Regions from separate parts of the Homo sapiens genome. Here region 2 is linked to region 1. Evidence: fine-mapped expression QTL. A gene starts in region 1. The other region holds a variant in brackets. All regions are shown on one strand. Distances are between the middles of the regions. Region 1 holds the start of ZNF16 (zinc finger protein 16). Region 2 overlaps C8orf33 (chromosome 8 open reading frame 33).

Region 1 (2,909 bases):
AAAGATCAGACTGTTACTGTGTCTGTGTAGAAAAGGAAGACATAAGAAATTCCATTTTGACCTGTACCTTGAACAATTGCTTTGCTGAGATGCTGTTAATTTGTAACTTTGCCCCAGCCACTTTGCCACAACTTTGAGCTCACAAAAACATGTGTTGTATGGAATCAAGGTTTAAGGGATCTAGGGCTGTGCAGGATGTGCCTTGTTAACAAAATGTTTACAAGCAGATGCTTGGTAAAAGTCATCGCCATTCTCCAGTCTCAATAAACCAGGGGCACAATGCTCTGCGATAAGCCACAGGGACTTCTGCCTTGGAAAGCCGGGTATTGTCCAAGATTTGTCCCCATGTGATAGTCTGAAATATGGCCTCATGGGATGAGAAAGACCTGACCGTCCCCCAGCCCAACGCCCGTAAAGGGTCTGTGTTGAGGTGGATTGGTAAAAGAGAAAAGCCTCTTGCAGTTGAGATAGAGGAAGGCCACTCTCTCCTGCCTGCCCCTGGGAACTGAATGTCTCGGTATAAAACCCGATTGTACATTTGTTCAATTCTGAGACAGGAGAAAAACTGCCCTATGGTGAGAGGTGAGACATGTTGGCAGCAATGCTGCCTTGTTATTCTTTACTCCACTGAGATGTTTGGGTGGAGAGAAACAAATCTGGCCTACGTGCCCATCCAGGCATAGTACCTCCCCTTAAACTTAATTATGGCACAGATTCTTTTGCTCACATGCTTTTTTTTGCTGACCTTCTCCCTATTATCACCCTGCTCTCCTACTGCATTCCTCTTGCTGAGATAATGAAAATAATAATCAATAAAAACTAAGAGAACTCAGAGACCGGTGCCGGTGCAGGTCCTTAGTGTGCCGAGTGCCGGTCTCCTGGGCCCACTGTTGTTTCTCTACACTTTGTCTTATTTCTTTTCTCAGTCTCTCGTCCCACCTGATGAGATATCCCACAGGTGTGGAAGGGCAGGCCACCCCTTCACCCCGTCGCTCCGCCCGAGCTCGAATGGTGGCACCGACAGGCGGGAACGCCACCAGCCTGTGGGCGGAGTCCTGGCTCGGCCCCTCGCGGCGACCTTACCCCGGGGTCTCCCCGGAGACCCCCTACCGGAGGCAGCCCCCAGAGGCTCTGACCTCCAGCCCAGGCCGAGCTGCCCCCGCCCCGCCCCCCCCGCGCTCCCACAACCCCCCGCGCGGCTCCGCCCCCGCCCGGGGTCCCCAGCTCGCTGCCCGCCCCGTCTGAGCCCTGAGAGGCCCCTGGGCCCCCCAACCACGGGGGCATCAGGGACAACCAGACGCAGGGTCCCAGGCGTGGAGCTTCGCGGAACTAACCTCAACGGGTCGCGCTTGGAAAGGAGGCAGCACCGTGGCACGAAGACGTCTCAGCCAACGCCGGCTGACCCCCGGAAGTCCCGCCCCGAATTCCGGCCCGCCGCTCGTTCTATCTGGGGCAGCGTAGCCTCTCTAGATGGCGGGAGGCCGGGGCGACTCTGTGGTTCAGCCCCAGACCTGGTCCCACTAGCCCTGAGGCCAGAGACCCTTCTGTTCCCCTTTTTTTCAGAGTTGACCCGTGCACTGAACAAGGCGGCAACTGAAGAAAAGGGGACACTAATAGAAATGCAGAGATAATGAGATATACTCGTGTAGTGGGAGATTTTAATATACAGGCCCCCAGAATCGGAACAGACGGTAGTTTGATAAAAACCTAAGGATACGTTTTTTGGAAGAACTGAATCATTCAATCAGTAAGTGATTAGATAGATAAATGGAAGAATTCAGATTCCTTCAGTAGATAACATGTTTTCGTGAGATTGTGCATGGATCGTTTCTAATACGGAAATGAATTGTACACTTGGACATAAAGAATACAAATAAGGCTGGGTGCGGTGGCCCACGCCTGTAATTCCAGCACTTGGGAGGCCGAGGCGGGCGGATGGCTTGAGGCTAGGAGTTTGAGACCAGCCTGGGCAATATAGGGAGACTCCATCTCTACAAAAAATACAAAAGTTAGCCAGGTGTGATGGTGTGCGCCTGTAGTCCCAGCTACTCAGGAGGCTGAGGTGGGCGGATTGCTTGAGCCGGGGAATGTGCGGCTGCAGTGAGCCGGGATCACATGTTGCACTGATGAGAGAGTGAGACCCTGTCTCAAAAAAAAGAAACAAACAACAACAACCAAAAAAAACCTCACAAATATTTTGACGTTCATTTTGCAGGCAGATTAAACTATCAAAATCAGGAATACATAATAAAAAATGCATGACAAACTCTATTGGAATTTAAGAAACACTGTCTAGATAACCCCCCCCCCTTTTTTTTTTAGTTCAGGCTGAGGTGCTCTCAGTTGGAGATGAGGAACTTATTGGAAGCTGGAGTAAAGGTCACTCTTGCTATGCTTTAGCAAAGAGATTGGTGACATTTTGGCCCTACCCTAGAGATCTGTGGAACTTTGAGCTTGAGAGAGATGATTTAGGGCATCTGGCAGAAGAAATTTCTAAGCAGCAAAGCATTCAAGATGTGACATACCTTTTTCTGAAAGTGTACAGTCATATGCATTCACAAAGAGATGGCCTGAAATTGGAACTTATGTTTATTTTTTTATTTATTTTTAATTTTTTTATTTCCATAGGTTTTTAAATTTTTATTTCCATAGGTGGTGGTGTTTGGTTACATGAGTAAGTTCTTTAGTGGTGATTTGTGAGATTTTGGTGCACCCGTCACCTGGGCGGTATGCCTTGAACCCAATTTGTAGTCTTTTATCCTTCACGCCCTTCCTGCACTTTCCCCCTGAGTCCCAGTCCCCAAAGTCCATTGTATCCTTCTTATGCATTTGCATCCTCATAGCTTAGCTACCTCTCACGAGTGAGGACATACGATGTTTGGTTTTCCATTCCTGAGTTACTTCACTGA
Region 2 (2,909 bases), 100 kb after region 1:
GCACGTGTGATCTGGGGTCCGCGGAGTTAAGGCGGGGAGGGGCATGGGATGGGGCCGGCGGCTATGGTTTTCCAGTGCCCTCTCACAGCCACTTCCCCAAATCCATCACAGGCACAACAGTTGGCCCAGGAATTGGCTTGGTGTGTGGAGCAACTGGAGCTGGGCCTCAAGAGGCAGAAACCCACCCCGAAACAGAGTAAGGGACCCTTCTGTAGAGCTGGGGGATGTGAACAGTGGCACTGCCTGGCCTGCAGGTGCTGGCAGAGTATGGAGTTGTTGGCTTTGCGGCGGGGTGGTAGGAGGTCAGTAATAGAGGTGTTCACTAGTCCTTTATTTTTATTCGCAGAAGAGCAGGCTATTGGAGCAATCCGAACCCTGCGCAGCAAAAGAACGCCCTTGCCCCGGAAGAGGCAGCTGATGCACTCCTTGTTTGGAGACTATAGGGCTCAGATGGAAGCCGAATGGCGTGAGGCCCTGCGGGCTCTCAGAGCTGGTGAGGAGCTAGCCACTGGTTGATTCAGGAAGGCCTAACTTAAGGAGGAAGTGTCTAGGGGGTGAAAGGAAGAAGGCCCAGAGCAACAAGCCTGGTGGGGGAAGGAGATGGGCTCAGGGAAGCCTGAGGGAGCAGGGAAACAGAAAGCGTGGACCTCTCTTTCCTCTTCCTAGGACTGAACCTGGGAAGCAGCGGGGAGGCCCTGGGAGGAGTGGGAAAGAGCATGGTCCTATGTTGGTCCTGCTCCTGGGTTGGGGAAAGCTGCCTCATGTCTTTGTGTCTTGGCTTTCTCTACTAGCAATGAAGCCATATCCCATAACAGTTTGAGTGCAATTCCTGGGGCCAGATCAGCTAGGTTCAAATCCTGGATCTACCACATAGTAGTACTAACACCTTTTGCAAACTACTGAACCTCTCTAAGTGGGGGATGATAGTAATATCAACCTTACAAATTTGAGGAATTAATCAGTTAATTTATGCAAGGTGGTTAGAATTGTATGGGCAAACATAACTGTACAGGTAATGTTAATTGTTATTATTCAGTTCTGACATACGCTGCTTCTCTCCCCGACAGCTGCTTATTCAGCCCAGGTGCAACCTGTAGATGGAGCCACCAGAAAGAAGAGCCAAAGGGTCTGCAGGCCTCGCTCTATATGGAGAGCCAAAGCCACTCTGGACATGCCTGATGAAGAGTTTAGGTTCAATTTCTTTTAGCGTCTCCCCGAACCTGAAACAATCCCCCTCCCTTGGGGTGGTGTAGGGGTTTGTTTTGAGTGCAGAGCCTTTCCAGGACTTCTGTTGTCAGAGAACCCTGGAGTTGGTCTGTCCCTGGCTGGTCCAAGGATTTGTAGCTGTTGTGAAGGTGTGAGACCATCAGATAGGCAAAAGACCCCGTTCGTTTTCTG[A/C]TGAAATGTTCTCTCTTTCAGAAGAGAGAGAGAGGTGCATTTAGAAAATATGCAATAAATTGAAGTGAGTGTTCAAAGTATTGTAGAAGGAATATTGTACTCAGTCTTTAGGATTAGATTAAGTGGCTGTTGGTAACAAAGATTAGTGGAGAAGCTGTATAATCGTACACTGGTTTTCACTTTTGAAAGGAATCCCTGTCAAATGGTTTAGTGCTTAATGCTGTTATGTCATATTGCCCTAATCTCTATTTTTGATAAAATTGGATAAGGAGTGAAAGAGTATGCTGACCACCTATGTTAGAGGAAGTACAGAAGATGCAGGGGTGTGGTATCCCTGGGTCCAGTCCCTCACCTGGTACCTTTGTGCATGTTGCCTTCATTCCTGAGCAGGTATCATCCTCAGGGAACCAGCATGGCACCTACCAGGCCAGGCTCTGTTCTTAGGAGCAAGGAGCTTCTTGCGCTAACAGTTCTGGCCTGAGACCTGGATTGAGCCTTGGCAGACTTCTTGTCTAAATGTTGGCCATTCAGTCTCAGGCCCTCTGTTCCATGGAATTGGGAATCTCCAGGTGACCTAATCCTCATTGGTGGCTTGATGTTTGCTGGTATCTTCCAAACTCAGTTCCCAGACTAGATTGATACCTGGAGCCCAGCTGCCTACTCAGCATTTCCACTTGGGTGCTTCATAGGCATTTCAAACCTGATGTGTTTAAAACACTTGATTAGGCTCCGGTTTTCCTTTGGCTTCTGCTTTTCAGTGAATGGCATGACTGCCTATGTGGGTGGCAAGCCACCCAGGTGCCGAGGAAAGAGACTGAGGGCACGAGCTGTTCCAGTATAATAAAATATATAAAATAAGAAGAGTTATACTAGATCTAGATCATAGACATGATTATATGTGAGTATCATTAATCATTAGTTTATAGCAATTACTCTTTATTCCAATATTATAATAATCCTCACTCTACAATCATAACCTAGGAAAAACCAGGCCATACAGAGATAGGAGCCGAGGGGACATAGTGCGAAGTGGCCAGAAGACAAGAGTGTGAGCCTTCTCTTATGCCCGGACAGGGCCACCAGAGGGCTTGGTCTAGCAGTAACACCAGTGTCTGGGAAGATGCCTGTTGCAAAGTGGACCATGGTCTAGCAGTAGCATCAGTGTCAAGGAAAAACACCCACTACTTAGCAGACTGGGAAAAGGAGCCTCCCTTTCCCCGGGGGAGTTTAGAGAAGACTACTCCTCCACCTCTTGTGGAGGGCCTGACATCAGTCAGGCCCGCCCGCAGTTATCCAGAGGCCTGTCTCCCTGTGATGCTGTGCTTCAGTGGTCACGCTCCTAGTCCGCTTTCATGTTCCATCCTGTATACCTGGCTCTGCCTTTTAGATAGCAGGAGCAAATTAGTGAAAGTACTAAATGTCTGATATGCAGAAATAATGGCATAAGCTGTCTCTCTCTCTTCTCTCTCTCTCTGCCTCTGCTGCCAGGCAGGGAAGGGCCCCCTGTCCAG

Evidence for each region.
Region 2: its variant is fine-mapped to the expression of ZNF16 in blood mononuclear cells (TOPMed, PIP above 0.99).

What each region holds. Positions count from the first base shown.
Region 1 is chr8:144,949,463-144,952,371 of GRCh38, forward strand. It overlaps ZNF16 (zinc finger protein 16), which reads right to left and starts at 1,418. Exons shown (of 3, transcript NM_006958.3): 1 at 1,335-1,418. RefSeq lists a silencer at 928-1,237 and an enhancer at 1,478-1,547.
Region 2 is chr8:145,052,951-145,055,859 of GRCh38, forward strand. It overlaps C8orf33 (chromosome 8 open reading frame 33), which reads left to right. Exons shown (of 5, transcript NM_023080.3): 3 at 112-196; 4 at 347-493; 5 at 1,068-2,909. The coding sequence ends at 1,207. Among named protein-coding and RNA genes, the nearest start is that of C8orf33, 1.9 kb to the left of the region's middle. RefSeq lists an enhancer at 91-891. The variant A/C (reference allele first, on the strand shown) is at 1,399.